Linked DNA regions of Homo sapiens: regions 1, 2, 4 and 5 are each linked to region 3. Evidence: fine-mapped expression QTL. A gene starts in region 3. Each other region holds a variant in brackets. All regions are shown on one strand. Distances are between the middles of the regions. Region 1 overlaps FALEC (focally amplified lncRNA regulator of ECM1). Region 2 overlaps C1orf54 (chromosome 1 open reading frame 54). Region 3 holds the start of TARS2 (threonyl-tRNA synthetase 2, mitochondrial). Region 4 holds the start of MRPS21 (mitochondrial ribosomal protein S21). Region 5 overlaps RPRD2 (regulation of nuclear pre-mRNA domain containing 2).

The links. PIP is the estimated chance that this variant, and not a neighbour inherited with it, causes the effect.
Region 1: its variant is fine-mapped to the expression of TARS2 in unexposed skin (GTEx, PIP 0.95).
Region 2: its variant is fine-mapped to the expression of TARS2 in hypothalamus (GTEx, PIP 0.92).
Region 4: its variant is fine-mapped to the expression of TARS2 in whole blood (INTERVAL, PIP 0.94).
Region 5: its variant is fine-mapped to the expression of TARS2 in whole blood (TOPMed, PIP above 0.99).

What each region holds. Positions count from the first base shown.
Region 1 is chr1:150,528,796-150,533,899 of GRCh38, reverse strand. FALEC (focally amplified lncRNA regulator of ECM1) reads right to left here. Exons shown (of 6, transcript NR_186305.1): 4 at 1,507-1,650; 5 at 1,114-1,243. Among named protein-coding and RNA genes, the nearest start is that of FALEC, 16 kb to the right of the region's middle. RefSeq lists an enhancer at 180-1,170. The variant G/A (reference allele first, on the strand shown) is at 2,314.
Region 2 is chr1:150,273,808-150,278,911 of GRCh38, reverse strand. C1orf54 (chromosome 1 open reading frame 54) reads right to left here. Exons shown (of 6, transcript NM_024579.4): 2 at 4,742-4,825; 3 at 3,113-3,171; 4 at 2,280-2,390. All of the region lies in intron 1 of LOC124904414, which reads left to right. Among named protein-coding and RNA genes, the nearest start is that of C1orf54, 3.6 kb to the right of the region's middle. The variant G/T (reference allele first, on the strand shown) is at 2,219.
Region 3 is chr1:150,484,774-150,489,877 of GRCh38, reverse strand. TARS2 (threonyl-tRNA synthetase 2, mitochondrial) reads right to left here and starts at 2,459. Exons shown (of 18, transcript NM_025150.5): 1 at 2,362-2,459; 2 at 1,824-2,020; 3 at 791-914. The coding sequence starts at 2,427. LOC124904416 (a long non-coding RNA gene) reads right to left here. Exons shown (of 2, transcript XR_007066600.1): 1 at 5,089-5,104; 2 at 4,524-4,833. RefSeq lists enhancers at 2,365-2,634, 2,128-2,634.
Region 4 is chr1:150,290,659-150,295,762 of GRCh38, reverse strand. MRPS21 (mitochondrial ribosomal protein S21) reads right to left here and starts at 1,902. Exons shown (of 3, transcript NM_031901.6): 1 at 1,865-1,902; 2 at 1,314-1,428. The coding sequence starts at 1,396. LOC105371434 (a long non-coding RNA gene) reads left to right here and starts at 1,943. Exons shown (of 2, transcript XR_922129.4): 1 at 1,943-2,131; 2 at 2,266-2,463. RefSeq lists an enhancer at 1,555-1,614. The variant A/G (reference allele first, on the strand shown) is at 2,479.
Region 5 is chr1:150,428,941-150,434,044 of GRCh38, reverse strand. The region is part of intron 2 of RPRD2 (regulation of nuclear pre-mRNA domain containing 2); the gene reads right to left. Among named protein-coding and RNA genes, the nearest start is that of TARS2, 56 kb to the left of the region's middle. The variant CTG/G (reference allele first, on the strand shown) is at 2,374.

The DNA of each region.
Region 1 (5,104 bases), 44 kb before region 3:
CCAAGGCCACATCTGAACATCCTTATTAAAATACCCCATGCATATGGAAGCACAGGTGTCATTATTCACCTTTTTCTATCTTTTTTGGTCACAGAGACTCTGCTGAGAGGCTGATAAAAGCTCTGGGTTCTTAGTGCTTAGGAGTTAGAATCTGAAAAAAACAGGCTGGGCACGGTGGCTCATGCCTGTAATCCCAACACTTTGGGAAGATGAGGCTGGTGGATCACCTGAGGTCAGGAGTTTGAGACCAGCCTGGCCAACATGGCGAAACCTCATCTCTACTAAAAATACAAAAATTAGCCGGGTGTTGTGGCACACCACCTGTAGTCCCAGCTACTCAAGAGGCTAAGGTAGGAGAATCACTTGAACCTGGGAGGCGGAGGTTGCAGTGAGCAGAGATTGCACCACTGCACTCCAGCCTGGGCAACAGAGTGAGACTCCATCTCAAAAAAAAAAAAAAAAAAAAAAAGCTCTGGTTCTCTTCCTAAGATAGGTATACACAAAAAACATTTAGCATAGAGTTTCGGAGTTTCCACACTCGATGTGGCCCATCTTGCCCTACTCAGCAAGGGGTTCAGTTGTGGCTTACAGCAGTGAGGCTGATCTATACTCCATCCCCTCAAGGCCGTCCCTCAACACCCACGGGTGCCCTCTGCTGCAATCCTGACAGGAGCTTGGCAAAGCAGCTCTTCTAAGGCCCTGAAAAAACGGCTGAGGCAGGCTAGCCATTCAGTGCCTTTTTGAATAAAATGAAATCTAAACTCTTGACATGGCCAAGAAGGCCCTTCATGCCTGGCCAGGCGTGAGCCTCCTCCCTGGCCTCATCCCAACGCTATTACTGCTACTCTGGCCACACTGGCCTCTCTGTTCTTTATTGGACATGTCAATCCTGGGCCACCTCAGGGTCTTTGCCGAAGCTGTTCCCCATGCCTGGAAAAGCTCTTCCTCTCTAGTTGCACTGCTGGCTCCTGGCTGCTAGGGTGTCAGCACAGATACCTTCCTCCAAGAAGCAGCATTAGAAAGGGGCATGTGTCCCCACCCCCCAGCACCCTTTTTCTCTGTTGCACCATCTTAGTTTATTTTGCTCAGGGCACTTGCCACTTCTGAAATTACCTTTTTTTTTTTTCCTTAGTCAGTCACTGTTTGTCTTCACCGTTAGGGGGCGAGCTCCACGAAGTCAGTGGCCTTGCCTGTCATCTCCCAGAACAGGGCCTGGCGCACACACTATGCACTCAGTGAATATCTGTGGAATGAAAAAAGGATCATAGTGGAGGTGAGATAAGAATCTTGACTCAATTCTCTGTCCCACCAAGGCGGGTGCTGGCAACCCCTGGCCCCCATTCTAGGCAAAGTTCCTGCCTTTCCCTCATGTCTCTATTGCCGGCCGGCCTGCTCTTTTCCCAGATCTCTGGAGCCACTCCCTCCCAACCAGCATCTAACAAAAACTCTTTTGTGATTTTATGCCTGGGGTATTTCATCTGAGTCAATTGGCTTCTCCAGCCTTACCTCAGCTGAGTCCAAAGGTCTGATCAGTGTTTCCAGTGTAACAGCCAACTCTGTGGTCCCAGGGCTCAGAGCTCCACTCCAGGGGAACGAGGGAACTGACAGAGGACGGTCCAGCCTCTGCTCCCTGCGCTTTCGTTCCTGGGTCTTGTGGAAATAAAGGAAAACCAACTTTAAAAAAGCAAAGGCTGGCCGGGTGCGGTGGCTCATGCCTGTAATCCCAGCACTTTGGGAGGCCGAGGCAGGTGGATCAGGAGGTCAGGAGATCAAGACCATCCTGGCTAACATGGTGAAACCCTGTCTCTACTAAAAATACAAAAAAATTAGCTGGGCGTGGTGGTGGGCACCTGTAGTCCCAGCTACTCGGGAGGCTGAGAGGCAGGAGAATGGCGTGAACCCGGGAGGCGGAGCTTGCAGTGAGCCAAGATCGTGCCACTGCACTCCAGCCTGGGCGACAGAGCAAGGGTGTCAGCCATCTGCACTTGCATTTTGACGGAGCTTCGAAGGCAGGCAGAGGAGTGGGACACCTTTATAGCTGAGGAAAGTGAAGGCTTCAGGTGTGCCCTGATTGGAGGCTGTTGGTGTGGGGAAGCTGCCCGTGCATGGGCTAACTAGAAGCAGGGCATCCTGTGTGCTTGGTTAGGGGTGCATTTTTGGCTTTCCCTGGTTGGTCCTAAAGTGAGGACAAAATTAAGGAAACTGTCAGTTACTAATCAAATTCTGGCCATTTGGGGCTGATTGTTACAGACATTATTGGTTATTGTTTAGCTTCCTGGATTGTCACTAGAGATAGCAATCTGGCTTCTTGCA[G/A]GCCTGATTTAGAGCAGGAAGACCTCCCAGGTTAATTGTTGCAGATAATGAGTTAGTTTCCCCAGCAAGTGACCGCAGGCTGTGGGTGAGAGTTGTATTTTTTTTTTTCTTGAGATGGAGTTTTGCTCTTGTTGCCCAGGCTGGAGTGCAGTGGCGAGATCCCGGCTCACGGCAACCTCCGCCTCCCAGGTTCAAGCAATTCTCCTGCCTCAGCCTCCAGAGTAGCTGGGATTACAGGCTAATTTTATATTTTTAGTAGAGACGGGATTTCTCCATGTTGGTCAGGCTGGTCTCTAACTCCCGACCTCGGATGATCCGCCCACCTCGGCCTCCCAAAGTGCTGGGATTACAGGCATGAGCCACTGTGCCCAGCCTAGAGTTGTATTTTAATATATGGTCTGGCCATTGTTCATTTGTATAATCAGTTTCTTAGTGTACAGATCAGTCATTTGGGGATTCTTTCTCCCTTCCCTTAGATGTGTGAATGCCTTGGAATAGTGGAATCATTGAGTATTTCATTTCCTTTGTTCAAGAGCTCTCTACCAAAGGTATTCTCTGTGCAAAGATGGTGACAGATGTGGTAAAAAGAACAGGATGGGGCCAGGCCTGTCCCCAGAGGCTGCAGTGCAGTTAGGGAACTGAGGTGTGTTGTTCCTGAGAACTGCATATGCCACATGACTGGCTCAGAACAGGGGCTTCTGATGAGAGGAATTAGGAAGGCGTTATGGACAGTGTGGTTTCTGGAGTTCCGCTTTGAACCAAAAGCTGGATATCTATAGATGGAAATTGGGAAGGGAAGGGCGAGGGCACTCTTGGAAGGGAATACTCTGAGGAAGGGCGCGGGTGTTGCGGGCCTCCGTTTGGTCACTCGCTCTCTTCTGTGCTCAGTGCTTCGGCCCGTAGAGCCACTGGACACTGGAGACAGTGTGAAGGTGCCTGCTGGGTTGTGACGGCTTCAGTGCGGGGCAAGGCCTGGTGGGAAGAGCCTTTCTTATCAAGATGAGGAGCCTGAATTTGGGCCCTGGGCAGTAAAAATCGCAATAATAACCAGCACTTAGTGAGCACCGGCCTCAGAGAGTCCCTGCAAACCATGAGGCAGTTACTGTTATCATCTCCATTTTACAGATAAGGAAACTGAGGCAGTGATTAAGGAACCTGCATGGGACCACACAGTATCAGAGGGGAGAGAATGATCAGATGTTGTGCTTAGCAAAAAAATTGTCTGTAACTGTGCTCCCCCAGCTGCTGCCTCCCGATTCAAAGTCTTTGTTCTTAAATGTGCGTCCTATTAGTAAGTACCCAGCCGTTACTAAGTACCCAGCATGGCCTCAGCATTTGCATGTATTATCTAACTTAATCTTCACAGCCCTCTGAAATAAGGAACTGGGATTATCATTCCCATTTTACAGAAGAGAAAACTGAGGAGCTAAGTAGCTTCCCTGAGGTGGTGCAGTCCAGGCCCCTGCACATCTACCTCTGTGCCACACTGCCCCTTGTCAATAGGCAGGGATGTAACTGCCCATCAGTCAGGCCCTGATCCACAGCAGTGGATCCAAGAGCTGACCCAAGTTAGGGGCTCTTGTCTTTCTGGATCACCCTTTAAAGAATTTGATGTAAGCTACAGATACTCGCCCCAGAAAAATGCACACACACAGACACACCGCATTTTGCATACTTTAAGAAATTCACAGGCTGGGCGCGGTGGCTCACCCCTGTAATCCCAGCACTTTGGGAGGCTGAGGTGGGCGGATCATGAGGTCAGGAGATCGAGACCATCCTGGCCAACATGGGAAAACCCCGTCTCTACTAAAAATACAAAAAATTAGCCGGGCGTGGTGGCAGGCGCCTGTAGTCCCAGCTACTCGGGAGACTGAGGCAGGAGAATGGCGTGAACCCGGGAGGCGGAGCTTGCAGTGAGCCGAGATGGCGCCACTGCACTCCAGCCTGGGTGACAGAGCGAGACTCCACCTCAAAAAAAAAAAAAAATCACAGATCCCCACAAATCTTTCCATGGGCCCTGCTAGGCAAGCAGGCCATAGGGGAAGACGTTTGGGGTAAATGCTTCAGCCTTTTTGGCTCCAGTCTAGGGCCAAAGGGCAAGCCTTTGAGTTCTACAAGGTTTCATTTTGGGGACAAGGAAAACAAAATTCCACATCTATTTTCATTTACTTCATCTGAGAAAGGAACAAAAGGCAGCAGCCTGCCCACCAAGCCCCCATTTTGGGGCTGACCTAATTACCCAGCTTCTCTCCCACACTCAGATGGCTGAACGCTGCTGGAGGAAATCTTCTAATTCTGCTGGTTTCTGCCAATGCACACGTATGGTTTCTAATCCCAGCTGGGCCTTTAACACTACTTGGCAGCTCTTACTGTACCAGATAAACACTCACACCCCGTTCCCACAATGGTCATTCCAACCCTTCTTTAATGATTCATTAAGCTTTAAAGTTTCCATGTGATAGCAGAAGCCCAGCTGCACATATTTCAATTCACACCTTTCACGGATTTATCCTGCTTCTCCCTCCACCTGTGCTCTAGATCCTTTGATTTTTTTTTTTTTTTTTTTTTTTGCTATTTATTTAGTGGCTCCTGTGCCTGTCATTGGGCTAGGCTCTGGGATGCCTGTCATAGTCTCTGCTCTGGTGGAGCAAATAGCCCTGAGACAAAGACCATCATTCAATAAATATTAATAATTACAAGTGCCAGGCGCAGTGGCTCACGCCTGTAATCCCAGCACTTTGGGAGGCCGAAGCAGACGGATCAAGAGGTCAGGAGATTGAGACCATCCTGG
Region 2 (5,104 bases), 210 kb after region 3:
GCTCAACTATATGCAGGCTGCTCTTTGGTCCTATTCCCCTTTCCAGCCGTTGCTTCTCTTTTTCATTACCAGATTTTTTAGATGGTTGGTCTGTACTCACCTCCCTTTCCTCATAATGTACTCACTCTTTAACTCCACAAAAATCTAGCTTTTCTCCAAGCACTCAGTTAAAACTACTTTCTTGAGAGTTACAAGTGACCTCCTCCTCCTTGGCCTCTTGGTAGCTTTTGATGGATTATATTAAACTTTCTCTTCTAGACTCTATAATACAAACTTGGCTATCTGCCTACTTCTCCAGTCAAATCCTTCTCCATTCCATTCATTAATTTCTCTTCCTCCCACTCACTACAGGCACAGTCACTGGCCTTCTGAGCTTGTGTGTACTGGCTCTGTTGAGCTCATTTACTTTCATATCTGTGACTTTGCACTTAGAACTCTAGCCCTGATCTAGTTCAGTGACCTTTAGGACACCCTCATAGGGCTGTCACCATAAACTCAGCTTGGCCATTACCAAATTAATAACTTCTGTCCTAAACCACTCTGGCCTCCCATAGTTCCCACTTTGGTCAACCATTTTCCCAGACATCCATGTTTAAAACCCATGAGTTATTTTAACTCACTCCTCATTTATACTTCATATAAAATTATCACTCAAGCAAGGTATTTTCTTCATAATATTTATTTTTCTCCTCTCCATTCATAATGCCAGAGTACAGATTGTTTCTGGAACAACGCAAATCTCATGAGTTGCTTTCCACTAAATTATTTACATCCTGCATACAACCTGAAGAGTGGTTTTTCTTTTTCTTTTTTTGAGATGGAGTTTCACTCTTGTTTCCCAGGCTGGAGTGCAATAGCGCGATTTCGGCTCACTGCAACCTCCGCCTCCCAGGTTCAAGCGATTCTCCTGCCTCAGCCTCCCAGGTAGCTGGGATTACAGGCATGTGCCACCACACCCAGCTAATTCTGTATTTTTACTATAGACAGGGTTTCTCCATGTTGGTCAGGCTGGTCTCGAACTCCCGACTTCAGGTGATCAGCTCACTTCAGCCTCCCAAAGTGCTGAGATTACAGTCGTGAGCCACCACACCTGGCCGGTTTTTCTAAAATATCACTTTTCATCGTGTTTTTACCATAATGAAGAACTTACTAGGCTCCTTGTTGATTATGAGTCCAGACTTCAGCCTGACACCTGAGACTCTCTGAAATTTGCCCCTATGTTGCCACATGTGAAATTACTAAGCAAGTATTAGGAGCCTTGTAAATTTTATATTTTTCTTAATTCCCACTGTTCCCTTCCATATACCCTCTCCTTCAATCATACCCTATTTGCTAAACATATTATGCTTGTTCTATTCCCCCCTCCTGTGCAGCTCTTTCACTCTTTTTTTTTTTTTTTTTTTTTTTTTAGTATAGAGTCTCACTCTGTCGCCCAGGCTGGAGTAGAGTGGCGTGATCTCGGCTCACTGCAACCTCTGCCTCCCGGGTTCAAGTGATTCTCATGCCTCAGCTTCCCAAGTAGCTGGGATTACAGGCACGCACCACCACGCCTGGCTAACTTTTGTATTTTTAGTAGAGATGGGGTTTCCACCATGTTGGCCATTGAACTAGCCTTGAACTGCTGACCTCAAGTGATCCGACCACCTTGGCCTCCCCAAAGTGCTGGGATTACAGGCATAAGCCGCCATACCTGGCCTCTTTCACTCTTGGAATAACTATTCTTCCTCCTAATTGCTTCTGTCCTTCCATAACTACCCACCAATCAAAAGCTCATCTATTCTTCAGGGTGTATCTCAAGCACAAATGCCTCTTGAAAGCTTTTCAGACAACTCTAGCCTGTACTAATCTCTCTTCTTACATTGGCTAAAGCACTGCCAGTATCTTCTGCTTTCAAATTTATATATAATTTAACATCATAACATACCTTTTCATTTTGTTCTAAGTGTTTCGTAAACTTGAATTTTATAAATCCTTGAGGACAGTAACATAGATTTCTTTTTTATCAGCATCAGTTACCTTAGCAGCCTTAGGCATAGATTACATACCTATTGAATACTACTGAACTGAAATTTAACTGTACCATATCTTCCCAGTGTTCTGTAAACAGGGTTAGTATTAAATCTTAGTGAAACATGGCCAAGTTGAGATGAATACCTGCAATGAAGTACTAATTATTTGGTTCTCCCATCCACCAAAGCCTGGTATTCCAGCCCTCTAT[G/T]TATTCCACGTCACTAGGGATGTCCTGTCTCCCCCCAGCCCCCAATCCCCAATCAACTCACAGGTTCCGTTGTTACTGGTTTCACAGTTACAGGCTTCGGATGGTCTGCACGTGCTGTTTCAAGACTAATGGTAGTCTCTATTGCTTCTGTTATGTCCTTATCCAACCTGTTCTACCCTCAGTAGGATTTGGGAAACACAGAGTTATCAGTTTTTCCATCCAACATCTTCATAGATTCTCTACTTAAAGTTCTCCCCTTCACCACCTCCACCCAGCCCAAAGACTTAAGCTCAGGGATTCCCCCCTACCCTATGCTTGCATAGATTTGTACCCATCTCATTCAAAAGTCCCTTGATGCCCCTCCTCAGTGTCTTAGCAAACTTACTGAGGACAATTTATAAAGTTCTGGCTTTTTTCTCCTCCCCAGATAGGTTAACAAATCTGTTTTGGGCCTACTACTTAGTTTCTCCTCATCAAACTCATTTTTATTCTTGTTAATCAGATACATTTCAACATTGCCCAGTTTCTTTTCTTTTCTTTTTTCTTTTTTTTTTGTAGATGAAGTCTGGATCTGTCACCCAGGCTGGAGTGCAGTGGAACGATCTTGGCTCACTGCGTCCTCCATCTCCCGGATTCAAGTGATTCTCCTACCTCAGCCTTCTGAGTAGCTGGGATTATAGGCATATGCTACCATGTCCAACTAATGTTTTTGTATTTTTAGTAGAGACGGGGTTTCACCATTTTGGCCAGGCTGGTCTCAAACTCTTGACCTCAAATGATCCACTCGCCTTGGCCTCCCAAAGTGCTGGGATTATAGGCATGAGCCACTGCGCCCGGCCAGTTTCTTTTTAATTGTTACTTATCCTAACCCTTTTAGATGTAGAGTTCACTCACCAGCCTGTCCTCTGACTCAAATATGGAGTAATCAATGGTGAAATCTGCACTAAAGTCATCTGCAGAGGAGAAAGAAAATCAGTAATAATTAAAGAAAAATGTAACTCTAGATCTGGAAATGAAAAGGGAAGAAATTACTCAGAATAGTTTAACTTAAGTTGTAACATTTATTGGTATAATCCAATTTTATTTAACTAATGTTAAAAATGACTGTGAATGTGTATGCATTTATATTTTCAATGTAGGTATCTAAAATAATTTACAAATTTGAAAAATTTTCAAGTTCTTCTTTTTTTAGAGTCAGGGTCTCACTGTGTTAACAGGCTGGAGTACAGTTGGTTCAATCATAGCTCACTGCCACCTCCAGCTCCTGAGCTCAAGTGATCCTCCTGCCTCAGCCTCCTGAGTAGCTGGGACTACAGCCATGTGCCACCATGCCCAGCTAATTAAAAAAAAAAAAATTTGGCCGGGCACGATGGCTCAAGCCTGTAATCCCAGCACTTTGGGAGGCTGAGGTGGGCAGATCACGAGATCAGGAGTTCAAGACCAGCGTGGCCAACATGGTGACACCTTGTCTCTACTAAAGATACAAAATTAGCCGGGCATGGTAGCACACGCCTGTAGTCCCAGCTACCTAGGAGGCTGAGGCAAGAGAATAGCTGGAAGCCGAGAGGCAGAGGTTGCAGTGAGCTGAGATTGTGCCACTGCACTCTAGCCTGGGTGACAGCATGAGATTTGGTCTCAAAAAAAAAAAATTTTTTTTTCTATAGAGACAAGGTCTTGCTATGATGTCCAGGGTGGTCTTGAACTCCTGGGCTCAAGCAATCCTCCCATCTAAAAATCACTATCTGGAAAAATAACATCATCATGAGTCTTTTTTTTTTTTTGTGACGTAGTCTCATTCTGTCGCCCAGGCTGGAGTGCAGTGGTGTGATCTCAGTTCACCACAACCTCTGCCTCCCAGGTTCAAGCGATTCTCCTGCCTCAGCCTCCTGAATAACTGGGACTACAGGCAGGTGCCACCATGCCCAGCTAATTTTTGTATTTTTAGTAGAGACAGGGTTTCACCATGTTGGCCAGGCTGGTCTCAAACTCCTGACCGCAGGTGATCCACCCACCTCAGCCTCCCAAAGTGCTGGGATTACAGGCATGAGTCACTGCGCCCAGCCCATCATAAATCTTTTTTCATTTTTTTTTTTTGAGATGGAGTCTTGCTCTGTCACCCAGGCTGGAGTGCAGTGGCACGATCTCAGCTCACTGCAACCTCTGCCTCCCGGGTTCATGCCATTCTCCTGCCTCAGCCTCCCAAGTAGCTGGGACTGCAGGCACCCGCCACCACACCCGGCTAATTTTTTGTATTTTTAGTAGAGACAGGGTTTCACTGTGTTAGCCAGGATGGTCTCGATCTCCTGACCTCGTGATCCGCCCGCCTCAGCCTCCCAAAGTGCTGGGATTACAGGTGTGAGCCACCACGCCCGGCCCCATCATGAGTCTTGATAGGTTTTGTTCATAGCCAGATTTTTCTCTGACCCCATTGCTCTGCTTCAAAGTGAAGAGCAAAGTCTCAGAACTAAATATCCTGAAGCCTCTCTCCAGTTGGCTAAGGGCAAGAGCCTTTCATGTACTCACCATAACTGGGGGTGACTGTATAATAATAGACCACCTGATAATATTCATCCTCTCCCAGTCTTTCTTCATCCTCATATTCTTGTCCTATGGGGACAAGGACTAGAGGTCAAGGGACATCTGGAACACCTTACTAACAAAAGGACACCTGGAGATGACCTCAGCGCTCCCAGCTTTCTTGCTCTTTCTTTCTTTTCTCTCTCTCTCTCTCTCCTCCAATAGTCATACTCCTTTCTTGCCTGTGCACCTCTACACCCCTCTCAGTCTTCTGGGATCCATATCTGTAATGAGGCCTGTTACTCCGTGCCCTTTCAATCCAGGAACTCCTAAAACAGAAAACAGTCCCCTTCACATACTATAAACCCA
Region 3 (5,104 bases):
CTCCGCCTCCAGGGTTCAAGCAATTCTCCTGCCTCAGCCTCTCAATTAGCTGGGATGACAAGTGCTCACCACCACGCCCAGCTAATTTTTGTATTTTTAGTAGAGACGGGGTTTCTACTATGTTGGCCAGGCTGGTCTTGAACTCTTGACCTCAGATGATCCACCTGCCTCGGCCTCCCAAAGTGCTGGGATTACAGGCGTGAGCTACTGTGCCTGGCCAGAATAAGCTATCTTCTTAACACAGTGGTTACTTAGGTCTCTGTTTGGTCTTTTAGTCCTATTTTTTTCTGTCCCACGAATCTAGTGCGATATATTCCTCTTGGATTTGGTCACTATTTACACATAGATGGCAGGAGAACTCTATTTTTCTGGATCCTAATAGGCAAGGTCTGTGCTACCTGAGCTGACATGAAGAAGACAAGGTGGGGAGGTGACCAGGTTGTTTGCTCAGCTGTATAAGCCATGTTAGAATTGAATATACACTACAGATGACTTATAATGTACGTGCTCAAGAGTTGAGGGGGCTGAATTTACATATTTATCCTTTCGTTTTTTCAACATATCATCTCTCTCCCTCTCACTAGCACAAATGTTTGCTTAATAGATCGAAGCTAAGTTAAAAACTTTCACCATAAGTTTCCTAACCAGAAATAGTCAAGACAGTCTGTGGTAGGTCTCCCTCCCAACTGCAAATGGAGAAACTGCGGCAAAAGAATAAAATGTTAGAATTTCCTGCTTCAATATCTCTTGGTTTAGTAGTCACTGTATTCCTGATAAGAAAGAAACTTACTGCTTTCCCCTCTGGGGAATCGAATGTCAGAAATCTGAGGTCAGAATCTGTCTCCAAGGGCCGCTCCAGATCATAAGGTTCTCCATTCACTTGAGCAGCCACTGCAGTATCTGCCAGTGTTGAACTTCAGCAGTGGAAGGTGGGGATGAAGAAAAAGACAGGGTTACAAGGCACAAAAAGGAAAATATCACATGTTCTGATTCCTATATGAGAGTTTAAAAAGTTGATCTCACAGTGGTAGAGAATAGAGTGATAGTTACCAGAGGCTGGAAAGGATGGGGGAGGGGAGATGAAGAGGTTGGCTAATGGGTACAAAAATAGAGTTAGACAGAAGGAATATGCTCTAATGTTCCATAGCAGAGTTGGGTGAATACAGTTAATAATAATTTATTGTATATTTCAAAATAGCTAGAAGATTTGAAATAGTCCCAACACAAAGAAATGATAAATGTTTGGGGTAACAGATATCCTGAACACCCTGATTTGATCATTACATATTGTATGCATATATCAAAATATCACATATACCCATTCATATGTTCAATTATTATGTATCAATTATTAAAAAGTAAATTAATGATTTAAAACAGACAGGGTTACAATCCACAGTGGGGAGAAAGTTGCTCATCTCTCAGCAACTGTAAACTTGCAAAGGTGAAATGAGTTACCAGAGCAACAGAAGCTTTCATTTCTTTCCCCAATGAAAGGACAGAGACTCTGATGCAGAAACTAATACAGATAAAACAAATCTCAGGCCGGGTTTGGTGGCTCATGCCTGTAATCCCAGCACTTCGGGAGGCTGAGATGGAAGGATCGCTTGAGCCCAGGAGTTCAAGACTAGCCTGGGCAACATGGAGAGACCCCGTCTGTATAAAAGAACAACAACAAAAAACAAAAACAAAATCTTCAGGAAAGGCTATCTTAATGGGGACGGAACAGAAACAAGCAGACCAAGTTTTCTTCCCCTGCTCAAGTGAAGAGAAAGTAAAGGGGCAGAAGGATAATCCTGGTAGTTACAGGATGGGCCTGTTACCTGATCTGCCGGGCTAGTTGGTAGGGGGTTGTGTTCCATGCCACAGCATCAATTTTCTGGCCTCCAGGAAGTGATATCTTAATAGTCCGGGGTTCCTTCTGTGCCATGCTTGCTAATCTCTTTACCTGAGCAGCCCACAGCTCCTCAAAAAGGCCAAGCCGCTCTGCCAACCAGCGTGGAGGGGTCGACACAACTGCCTGGAGGGAAAGATATATTAGCAGGTAACACACGTCCCATCATTCTTTCTTAGAATTGCAGATGATGGCACTTTGGGATGGTTAAGTGGACTTCGTCCGAATTCCTACTTTTTAAGGGGATTGGGTGATACAAGACCCTAGGCTGGGGGTCCTTCGAGCTCAGAGTCCCCCAGACCGCTAACTCGAGAATTAGATAACGAGTTTAGATACGAGTCCTTTTCTGGGGACTCGGAGGACCAGGGAGAGGAGGAGTGGCGTGAGGCTGGGTTAACATAAAAATTTGGGGGCTTCGGCTGGGCTAAGTCTGATGCGGATCGGAGCTTTGGGGGTGCCTCACGCACCGTGTGTAGCCTGCAAGCCTGTAAACCTTGGAGCCGGAGACACCGCCACCTCTGATACAGGGCCATGTTCCTTCACACCAGTGCCTACATCCTCAAACAGATTATCGCCGCTTCTCCTCCACGTAATTCTTCATTGGCTTCTGGTCCAACAAAGTCCGTGTCTATTGGTTACTACAGCTGCCACTCTAGTCTGGCACCACCTCCAGGAACTCCGAAGAGGTACACCCTACACAGCACCAGCAGCGGTGTGAGTGGTTCCGGCTGACCGGAAGACCGAAAATGTAACACACCCTCGCTATTCCCCCAGACCCGTGGCGTTTCAGCTGAAACCCAAAAATAGCAATTAGGCGTCCTGTGGCTTTGAGGACAAGGGCAGGTGAACTTTTGAGGGCGAGAGTGGGAGAAAACCAGACAGGAAATGGTAGTAATTTCCCTTTAACTATACATTTTATTTTACGTGGTCCTTACAGCAAGTAGCAAAACTTAAGAGCATAGACTGGGGAACCAGACAGACCTAGTGTAAATTCTGGATCTGCCATTAACTATGTAATTTTGGGAAAATTATTAAACTTCTCATATTTATTTAATAGAGACCGGGGGGGGCGGGAGGGGGGGGCGGGTCTCACTATGTTGGCCAGGGTAGTCTCGAACTCCTGGCCTCAAGCAATCCCTCCCCTCCCCCCCACCAAACCGCCACCGCGCTCCGGCCTCCCAGAGTTCTGGAATTACAGGCATGAGCCGCCTTGCCTGACCTATTTAATTTCTCTAAGCCTCAATTTTCTCAACTATAAAATGAGAATAGTGTTGCTCCCAATTGTTGAGTTAAATTTTATGTAAATCGTCTAGTGTGGCCCATGGTTTTTTGGTAATGGGCAAAAGCAACAAGAAGCTATTATGATAAATGACTGTAACAGTTTTATTTTTTAATTTTGAGACAAGGTCTCACCGTTGCCCAGGCTGGAGTGCAGGGGTACAATCATGGCTCACTGCAGTCTCGACCTCCTGGGCTCAACTGACCACCTCAGCCTCTGGAGTAACCACTTTAAAGCTGGAGCAAAGATGGCCGCGCGCAGTGGCTCACGCTGTAATCCCAGCACTTTGGGAGGCCGAGGCAGGTGGATCACCTGAGGTCAGGAGTTCTAGACCAGCCTGGCCAACATGGTGAAACCCCGTCTCTACTAAAAATACAAAAATTAGCTGGGCGTGGTGGTGGGCGCCTGTAATCCCAGCTACTTGGGAGGCCGAGGCGGGTGGATCACCTGAGGTCAGGAGTTCTAGACCAGCCTGGCCAACATGGTGAAACCCCGTCTCTACTAAAAATACAAAAATTAGCTGGGCATGGTGGTGGGCGCCTGTAATCCCAGCTACTTGGGAGGCTGAGACAGGAGAATCGCTTGAACCCGGGAGGTGGAGGTTGCAGTGAGCCGAGATCACGCCATGCACTCCAGCCTGGGGGACAAGAGCGAGACTTCATCTCAAAACAAAACAAAAACAAAAAAGCTGGAATCAAGAATCTGCAGAGGTCAGTTTGAGTCCCTTTATACTCATGGTGCTTAATAGGGACTTTATAGACCTTTTAATCTTTTTTTTTTTTTTTTGAGATGGAGTTTCACTCTTGTTGCCCAGGCTGGAGTGCAGTGGCGTGATCTCGGCTTACCGCAACCTCCGCCTCCCCAGGTTCAAGCGCTTCTCCTGCCTCAGCCTCCCGAGTAGCTGGGATTACAGGCATGTGCCACCCCAGGCCCAGCTAATTTTGTATTTTTAGTAGAGACAGGGTTTCTCCATGTTGGTCAGGCTGGTCCCGAACTCCCAGCATCAGGTGATCCGCCTGCCTCAGCCTCCCAAAGTGCTGGGATTACAGGCGTGAGCCACCATGCCCGGCCGAGACCTTTTAATCTGACAGATGAGGAATTTAAGGTCAAACAGCAAGTGCTGATGGTGATTTCTGAATCCAAGCTTGGTTTTCTTTTACCACACCATGCTTTCTCTAGAAGAGTTTGCTCCCAGTATACTCCCCCATCACCTCAGAAAGAGGTGCCTGACTAGAATTTTAGCTCTCTGCTCCCTACATAAGCCCTTTGCCTCTAATTCCTATCCCAGCTCTCAACTTCCTTTATCCTTTCTCTTCCCTCTCCCTGATACATCTAGGACACAGGACTAGGTAAATTTCATCAAATTTACTCAGTAAATATGGGAACATGGTCAGATTTGTAGTAAAGTATGAAGGGAAACTGACTTGGGGGTAGCCATCAGGCTGTCAGTAATTCTCATTAGTCCCCTCACCTGGAGGTGGGGATGGTTAGAGTTGGTTCTGAAGTTTCAATGGTGATAGAATCAAGGGTTGTAGAGGAAGAGGTGTCAGAAAAAGCAGTTTAATCAAGGTTTCCGGAGAGACCAGGTTTCCCGGGCAGGGCAGTTGATCTGAGTCACAGGAGCCTCCATGGATCTTGGGTCCATCTTCTGGTAGACACCCTGAAATACAAAGAGAAAGAGACAAGAGTGTGGGAGAGGAAGATAACTTGTGTGTGTGTGGTTTGGAGAAGGTAGTTAAGAATTTTTAAATGGCATTCAGAAAGGGTGGCAACAGGCAGAATTCTTCTCATGCCTCTGCACCAAAAGGGGAAAGGTGTATTGCAGGCAACAAAATGGTAGGTGCCCAATAATTATTGAATCAAGTATGTACCAATCACGGTATTGATTTGATGCTCTCATTTACTAACTGCTTACTGTGTGCAATGCAGTG
Region 4 (5,104 bases), 190 kb after region 3:
GTCTTGCTATGTTTACCAGATTGGTCTTGAACTCTTGGCAACAAGCAATCCTCCCCACTAGGCTTCCCAAAGTGCTAGGATTACAGGTGTGAGTCATCCCACCCAGTGAGCTTTCCCATCTTTTGCCTGCTTCTCTAGGATGCCAATCTGAATTCACCTTTTCCTTTAGCTTTGTCCCACACCAATCACTCCCTCAGCTTTCTATTTATCATACTACGTTCCCGCTTCCTAGCAACTTCACATCTTGATTTTCCATTTGGGCTCTTTTTTAAGTCTTCTAAAGAATTCAGGTTCCTCATAAAAGGAGTCATTACGCTTGGGCAACATGGCGAGACTCCCTCTGTACAGAAAATACAAAAATTAACTGCGGTGGTGGCGTGCGTCACTAGACCCAGCTAGTCAGGAGACTGAGGCAGGAGGATTGTTGAGTGACACAGCAAGACCCTGTCTCAATTTTTAAAAAGCGGGGCCGGGCGCTGTGGCTTACGCCTGTAATCCTAGCACTTTGGGAGGCAGAGGCAGGCAGATCACTTGAGGTCAGGAGATCAAGACCATCCTGGCCAACACGGTGAAACCCCATCTCTACTATAAATACAAAAATTAACCGGGCGTGGTGGCGGGAGCCTGTAGTACTGGCTGCTCAGGAGGCTGAGGCAGGAGAATGGCGTGAACCCAGGAAGCGGAGCTTGCAGTGAGCCGAGATCGTGCCGCTGCACTCCAGCCTGGGTGACAGAGCGAGACTCTGCCTCAAAAAAAAAAAAAAAAATTAAAATTAAAATTAAAAGCGGGGAGGTGCGGGGGGTGATTACTTGTTGAATACAATTCATACAGTTAGGTTTGAGGAAGAACTTTTTTTCTTTTTTTTTGAGATAGAGTCTCACTCTTGCCCAGGCTGGAGTGCAAGTGGCTCGATCTTGGCTCACTACAACCTCTGCCTCCCGGGTTCAAGCGATTCTCCTGCCTCAGCTCTCGAGTAGCTGAGATTACAGGCGTTTGCCACCACGCCCGGCTAATTTTTGTATTTTTAGTAGAGACACGGTTTCACCATGTTGGCCAGGCTGGTCTGAAACTCCTGACCGCATGTGATCCACCCGCCTCGGCCTCCCAAAGTGCTGGGATTACAGGCGTGAGCCACCGCGCCCGGCCCAGAACTTCATTTTTAAGATAATAAACTGAGGGGCTGAGACGTTTTAAGAGACTGTGAACACCTGGGCTGGCACTGTTTTGAGAACAATCAACGAAAGGGGAAGGGAGAGAATAACCACCGCACTTCCCAGAGAGTCTAGGCATGATTCTGGTCCCTTAACAGTTACCTGTTTAGGGTCCTGTATGCGCTTTCCACGTTCCCTTCCTGTACCATCACAGTCCTGGCGATGAACTTCAGATGTTTTGCCATGACCTTGGATTTAAACCTTCACTCTGTAGAGCCTAAAGGATGATGGAGAAAGGGCGAGGAAAGCAGAAAGAGAAACGCAACATAATACAAACTACACCGCGCGGCTTATTTAGGATTTGGAAATTCAACATGCTCAGGGACGCGCGAGATGGAGCACATGGAAGTCATCCTAGAAAGTAGACGTGAATCGTTGTCTCTTATTCTCACTGCCAGTCCAAATCCTCGCATAGAGAAGAAAAGAGATGGCAGCAGGGCGTTACCACAAAGACGCGTCGCCGGGCATGAGAAGGACACGAGCGACAAGGATGCGCCACAGGGTCCCAACCACCACACATAGTTCCAAAAGGGGTTGAGTTGGGAGTTGGGGAAGGACTCTTTGTTGGTCTTTGGAAAAGGGGGCGAAAGCCCGCAAACCTGCCCTCTCGCCAAGCCAGCCTTCCTTTCCCCAAACCCTGCACAACTCCTCACCTCGCGCGCTCAGTACCTAGCCCACCGGAAGGGTTCTCACTACCGGAAGCGGAAATTACGGAATCGCCAGCGCCGCGCAAAGAAACAGGCCGAGGGAGACAACGTGCGTGGAAACCATAGCAACGTCCTTTCTGGCCTCTGTTGACTGCCTCTCTTCCCCGGGCCTGGACTCTACACCTGACAAAGCAAAATACTCATTGACTTAAATTCCCCCGAAACACGTTTCTCGCCCTCTCATGGAGTCGAAGTCCTTCGGCCTCTGAGAAGGTCAGCCCAATTTCATACCCCTTAATCCTGTGAAATCCTTGATAAATATTTGAGCCATTTCTCTTTCTCGATGGAAAACAAGAGAAGTAGGCGCTTCCTGAGGATGCTTCCTGTTTTCTCTTTGGAAAGGACAGACTCTTTGAGATCTGCTCTCCGGACGAAAAATAGATTGATTCATACACGTCATCTGCCTAAGTGCTAAGGAAAAGAAATAAACATACTGTGAGTTTCCTATATCATCTTCCCACTAATTTAACTACATAAAGTGAAATCAATAAAGATATATGGGAAACACCTGCAGGGTTTAGAATAAAAAATTATGTCAGCTTCTATGCCTTTTCGTGCTA[A/G]TGAGACCTACTGAAAAACCTCCTTTTAAATTTCTTCTTCGCTGTGGAGACACCCGTCCTCCTATTTGTATGCTACCTGTACATATCCATTTATGGTTATTCACGTAAGTTAACATCTAATGGCTGTAGGAAAACGTACCTCCCTTAGAGAGAGAGTGCGCGCGCACGCTCACGCACACACACACACACACAGACACAGACACAGACGTGTGCATCATCAGTTGATGCTAATAACTTACACTAACACTTAAGCCCACCTCAGAGTAAGCCAGGTCCAAAGTAACGAAATAGAACTAGATTGGGACATTATTATGCTTGTCAACAAACTTTCACTGAATGACTACTCTGTGTCAGATACTGTTGATACCACTCTAGTGCCTCCTGGACCACTAGGACCACATAAAAGATACTAAAACAAAGTAGTATATAATAAATGCAAAATAAATTATATGGGCTGGACGCGGTGGCTCACACCTGTAATCCCAGCACTTTGGGAGGCCAAGGCAGGCGGATCACTTGAGCCCAGAAGTTCGAGACCAGCCTGGGCAACAAAGCAAAACTCCGTCTTTACAAAAAATATAGAAATTAGCCGGGTGTAGTGGCATGGCCTGTTGTCCTAGCTACTTGGGAGGCTGAGGGGGAGGATCACCTGAGCCTGGAAGGTCAAGGCTGCAGCGAGCTTTGATCACACCACTGCACCCTGGCCTGGGCAATAGAGTGAGACCCTGTCTCAAAAAATTAAAAATGAATAAATAAATAAATAGGGCCAGGCGCGGTGGCGCACGCCTGTAATCCCAGCACTTTGGGAGGCTGAGGCGGGTAGATCACCTGAGGTCAGGAGTTTGAGACCAGCCTGGCCAACATGGTGAAACCCTGTCTCTACTAAAAATACAAAATTAGCCAGGCGTGGTGCCACATGCCTGTAATCCCAGCTGCTTGGGAGGCTGAGGCAGGAGAATCACATGAACCTGGGAGGCGGAGGTGGCAGTGAGCCGAGATCGCACCATTGCACTCCAGCCTGGGCAACAAGAGTGAAACTCCATTTCAAAAAATAAATAAACAAACAAATAATAAATAAAATATGCCACAGCATAATGTGGTGAAAGGCACTGGCTTCAAAGTTGGGAGATCTGGATTCTATCCCAATTCTAATACTCATCAGGCCTATGACCTTGAAGAAGTCATTTAAAACCAGGGGTCTGGAGACTACAGTTTACAGGTCAAATCCTGCTCCACCTGTTTTTGTAAATAAGGCTGTTGACCTACAGTCATGCTTATTTGACTGTGTGTTATGTATGGCTGCTTTGGGCTACGATGGCCGAATTGGGTAGTTGCAATAGAGACATAAAGCCTACAAAGCCTAAAATATTTACTATCTGGCCCTTGCCAGACTCACTCTATTTCCTCATCTCTAAAATGGGACTAATTTTGCCCTGTTCAGTCTCACGAAATTTGTCATGGGAATCAAATAGAATAAAATATGAAGATATGCCGGGCACGGTGGCTCACGCCTGTAATCCCAGCACTTTGGGAGGCTGAGGCGGGTGGATCACGAGGTCAGGAGATCGAGACCATCCTGGCTAACACAGTGAAACCCCGTCTCTACTAAAAATACAAAAGATCAGCTGGGCGTGGCGGCGCTCGCCTGTAGTCTCAGCTACTTGGGAGGCTGAGGCAAGAGAATCACTTGAACCCTGGAGGTGGAGGTTGCAGTGAGCTGAGATGGTGCCACTGCACTCCAGCCTGGGTGACAGAGCGAGACTCTGTCTCCAAAAAAAAAAAAAAAAAAAAGAGAAAAAAAATATGAAGATACTTTGAAAGAAAGGAAGGGAGACAGGAACTGATGTTAATAAGTTCTGTTAACCACTACCATTGGATCAGCTGGAGAGTAACATTTTTGAGAGCCTACTATATACTAAACCCTGTACTAGGTGGGTGTTTTTTATTTTTGTTTTTGTTTTTCTGAAACAGAGTCTCACTCTTGTTGCCCAGGCTAGAATGCAGTGGCACCATCATAGCTCACTGTAGCCTGGACCTCCTGAGCTCAGGTGATCCTTCCACCTCAGCCTCCCGAGTAGCTGGGATTACAGGGACATGCCACTACGCCTAGCTAATTTTTTGTATTTTTAGTAGAGACTAATTTTTTGTATTTTTAATAGTTTCACTATGTTGTCCAGGCTGGTCTCCCAAAGTGCTAGGATTACAAGTGTGAGCCACCCCACCAGGCCCCAAACCCTGCACTAGGTATTTTATGTACATGATTCCATTTAATGGAGTAAACGGCCAAACACTGAGTGTATAGATCATGTTTAACAGAAAGAATGATAGGATGGACTTGAGTTAGTCGTTGAAAGAGGGCAGGGTTTAGATAACAGAAGCAGGAAAGGTTTGGCAAGGTGAACAGCATGAACAAGAGCTTAGGGGCAAAAAGGTGTAGTGTTCAGGAGTCAAAACAAAACAAAACAAAAACCTGCAACAGAGAGATCATGCAGGGGAGCACAGGGAAAAATAGAGACTGTGACTAAAGATTTTGGACTTTCTTCTCAAAGCATTCGAGAGCCATTGAAGAATTTGAATAGGATATGATATGCAAAGCACTGTTCTAGGAAAATTAACTTGGTTATCA
Region 5 (5,104 bases), 56 kb after region 3:
TGACTCACCATCCTTATTGCTAACTTCTCAGAGTAAAACTCACTTATTAAGTCTATTGATGGTTCAGTGCTTCTTCTTGGTTAAAAAACAAATTATATGCCTCTGTGTGTGTGTGTGTGTATACACACTATATATACATACATATGTACATATACACATAATATAACTATATATAACATTATGTATATATAACATATATATAACATATTATGTATATTATATTACATATATTATACATATTATATATATTGCTAACTTCCCAGTGTAAAACTTATTTAGAAGTTTGGTGATGGTTCAGTGCTTCTTGGTTAAAAAAAAAACTATGGTAATCCCAGCACTTTGGGAGGCCGAGGCGGGCGGATCACGAGGTCTGCAGATTGAGACCATCCTGGCTAACACTGTGAAACCCCATCTCTACTAAAAATACAAAAAATTAGCTGGGCGTTGTGGCGGGCGCCTGTAGTCCCAGCTACTCGGGAGGCTGAGGCAGGAGAATGGCATGAACCTGGAAGGAGGAGCTTGCAGTGAGCTGAGATTGCGCCACTGCACTCCAGCCTGGGTGACAGAGCGAGACTCCGTCTCAAAAAAAAAAAAAAAAAAAAAAATTATGTCTGTGTGTGTGTGTGTGTATATATAGTATATATATATTATATATTATATATACAGACAGAGAGAGAGAGGGTCTGTCTGTTGATGGTAAATTTCTGTTTTTGTTTCTGTCTTTATGTTTTCCTGGTTCTTGAAAGTAGTTTTGCTTTGTATGCAAATCTACACTGACAGCTACTTTCTATCAATGCTATAAAAATATTTTTCACAACTGCCTCTGGCTTCCACTGCCGCTGCTGAGAAGTCTGTCATCAGTTTAATTGTAGTCCTTTTTAAAAATTTAAAAAAATTTTTATGGGTACATAGTAGGTATGTATCTTTTGGGGGTACATGAGATATGTTGATATAGTGTGTAATAATGACATCAGAGTATATAATAGGGTAGCCATCACCTCAAACATATATCATTTCTTTGTGTTACAATCATTCCAATTATACTTTTCCCCCAACCCCCTCACCTTGAGACAGGGTCTCACTCTGGTCCCCCAGGCTGGCGTACAGTGGTGCAATCTCGGCTCACTGCAGCCTTAATCTCCCAGGCTTAGGTGATCCTCCCACCTCAGCCTCCTGAGTAGCTGGGACTATAAACACATGCCACCACACCTGGCTAAATTTCATGTTTTTTTAGAGACGGAATCTCACCATGTTGCCCAGGCTGGTTGCAGACTCCTTGGCTCAGGCAATCCTCCCACCTCAGCCTCCCAACTTGTCAGGATTACACGTGTGAGCCACCATGCGCAGCTCCAATTATTACTCTTTAATTGTAGTCCTTTTATACTGATCTTTTTTTTTTTTGGCTTTTTTTTTTTTATCATTTTCTTATTGTGATTAAATATATGTAACATAAAGTGTGCCATTTCAGCCATTAAATGTACAATTCAGTGGCAGTAACTACATTCACAATGTTGTGCAATTCTCACTACTATTTCCAAAATTTTTCACTACCTCCCTTAGACCTCATCACCTCCCAAAGGCTCCACCTCTTAATACTACCACATTAAGGACTAGGTTTCAACATATGAATTTCGGGGGGACATAAATATTCAGACTACAGTACTCTGTACCAATAACTCCCCCTTATCTCTTTTTCCCAGCTCCTGATAACCTTTAATCTCTCTCTATGGACCTAACAATTCTAGGTATTTTGATAAATGTAATCATACAATATTTGTCCTTTTGTGTCTGGCTTATTTCAGCATGTTTTCATGGTTCAACCATTTTGTAGCATTTATCAGACTTTTCTTTCTTTTTTTTTTTTTTTTTAAGATTTAGGGTCTTGTTCCATCACCCAGAAGAAAGTGTAATGTCATTCCTTTTTTAAGGAAAATTGTGGTAAAATACACGTAAAATTTACCACCTTAACCATTTTTTTAGTGTACAGTTCAAAAGTTAAGTACATTCACACTGTTGTGCAACCAAACTCCAAAACTTTATTTTCCCAAATTGGTATACTATATCCACTAAACAATAACTCCCAATTCTCCCCTTTCTCCAGCAACCATGATTCTACTTCCTGTCTCTGAATTTGACTACTGAAGGTGACTGATGTAAGTGGCATCATATAATACTTGTCTTTTTGTGACAGGCGTGTTTCACTTAGCATAATGTCATCAAAGTTCACCCATGCTGCGGCATGTATTAGAATTTCCTTCCTTTTTGGCCGGGCGCAGTGGCTCACGCCTGTAATCCCAGCACTTTGGGAGGCTGACATGGGTGGGTCACCTAAGGTCAGGAGTTCAAGACCAGCCTGACCAACATGGTGAACCC[CTG/G]TCTCTACTAAAAATACAAAAATTAGCTGGGTATGGTGGCGCGCGCCTGTAATCCCAGCTACTCAGAAGGCTGAGGCAGGAGAATTGCTTGAACCCGGGAAGCGGAAGTTGCAGCGAGCCGAGATTGTGCTGTTGAACTCCAGCCAGGGCAACAAGGACAAAACCCCGTCTCAAAAAAAAAAAAAAAAAAAAAAAATCCTTCCTTTTTAAGACTGAATAATATTCCATGTTTGTATACATCACACTGTTTATCCATTCATCCACTGACAAACATGTAGACTGTTCTTCCTTTTGACTACTGTGAATAATGCTGCTATGAACATGCCTATACAAATATCTGTTTAAGTCTCTGTTTCCATTTCTTTTGGGGTATATATCTAGAGGTAGAACTGCTGGATCATGTGGTAATTCTATGTTTAATTTTTGAGGAACCACCAAACTGTTTTCCACAGCAACTGCACCATTTTACATTACTACAAGAAATGTAAATGGGTTCCAATTTTTCCACATCCTCTCTAAGCCTTGTCATTTTCTAGTTGTTTGTTTGTTTTGAATTATAGTTACCCTAGTAGATGTAAACTCTGGATGCTTTTAAAACTGCTTGTTTTATAATTTCATTACAATAACTAGGTATAAAATTTTTATTTATGCTATTTAGTATATGTTATTGCTTCCTTTATCTTAGATTCATATTTTTCATCACTTTTAGGGTGTTCTCAGCCCGTGTTATCTTTTTTTTTTTGAGATGGAGTTTCGCTCTTGTTGGCCAAGCTGGAGTGCAACGGCGCGATCTCAGCTCACCGCAACCTCCACCTCTCGGTTCAAGCGATTTTCCCGCCTCAGTCTCCCGAGTAGCTGGATTACAGGCATGCGCCACCAGGTCCGGCTAATTTTGTATTTTTAGTAGAGACGGGGTTTCTCCATGTTGGTCAGGCTGGTCTCGAACTCCCAACCTCAGGTGATCCGCCTGCCCCAGCCTCCCAAAGTGCTGGGATGACAGGCGTGAGCCACCACGCCCAGCCAGACAGTGTTATCTTCTAAAGAACTCAAAAGTTCTCTCCTTTTGTACAGAATCTCCCAGGCTCAAATGATCCTCCCGCCTCAGCCTCCTGAGTAGCTGGGACTGTAAGTACACACCACCACACCTGCCTAATTTGTATTTTTTTTATAGAAATGAGGTCCCACTGTTGCCCAGGCTGGTCTTGAACTCCTGGGCTCAAGTGATTCTCCCACTTTGGCCTCACATGATGGGATTATAGGTGTGAGCCACCACGGCTGGCCTTCATTTTTCATTTTCCCCACTCCTTATTTCTCCTGTTGCATTCTGATGTCTTCAGAACTACATTCTTGCGTATTCTCTTTCAAGAGTTCCTATAGATTATTTTTTTCCATCTGTCCAAATATCTTACCTGTTGTTCATTTTGTTATTCCATTTAATCTTCCTCTAACATTTCATATACATTACTCTACACATTCTGTCTGATAATTCCAATCTCTGAAACTCATTTGGGAAGGAACTAAATCGATGGATTGTCAATTGTGGTGGTCTGTTTTTCTGTGTGTTCAGAGATCTTTCACTGTGAGCACGTTTGTTTTTAACCTATGGGATTCCTTGTGGCCTAAACAGAAAATGTGTTCATATAGAACAACTATATCTCAGAAGCCAGGGGGAGCTAATTACACAAGAGCACATTTGCCCTTCTCCAGAGCCTAGTTTAAATGCCAAAATCACATAGTATTAATGTTATCGGCATGCTGGTTAATGTTAGCTTTGCCATTCTAATACATCCACTGTTTTTGGTTCTGCTTAAGTTTTGTCAAGGATGTAGTTATTTTATAACAAAATGACTCCTTGGAATAGATGGTTGACTATTCTGCCAGAAGTCAAATCATAATTATATACAAACAACTGTTTCTTCAACTAGACTACAGAACTTCTTCAAAACAGTGATTATAACTTATTTGTTGTTGTTTCTTTGCTGTTACTAAATAGTAGCTGAATGAATGACAACAGGATATTATCATTTTCTTTTTTTGAGAAAGGCCTCGTAGTTTGGTAGGTCGAGGTGGGAGGATCGCTTGAGGCTAGGAGTTCGAGACCAGCCTGGGCAACATGGTGAAACCTTGCCTTTACAAAAAATACAGAAATTAGCCAGGTATGGTTGTGCGTGCCTGTAGTCTCAGCTATCTGGGGAGCTGAGGTAGGAGGACTGCTTGAAACCCAGAGGTCAAGGCTGCAGTGAGCCGTGATCGTGCCACTGTACTCCAGCCTGAGAGGTTAAAAAGCCACTACTGGCTGGGTGTGGTGGCTCACACCTGTAATCCTAACACTTTGGGATCAACTGAGGTTGGGAGTTCGAGACCAGCCTGACCAACATGGAGAAACCCCGTCTCTACTAAAAATACAAAATTAGTCAGGCGTGGTGGCGCATGCCTGTAATCCCAGCTACTTGGGAGATTGAGGCAGGAGAATCGCTTGAACCCGGGAAGCAAAGGTTGTGGTGAGCTGAGATCGCACCACTGCACTCCAACCTGGGCAACAAGAGCAAAACTCCATTAAAAAAAAAAAAAAAGCCACTACTGACCACAATGTCAATTTTCACAGAATTTACAATCACCACAAACCATGTAACATGCTTAGTTACATAACCTTTTCTTCTTTGATTTTTAAGTTAAAAAAAAAATTGGCTGACCTTGTAGAACTGCTAGGATGTTCAACAGCGACCTTA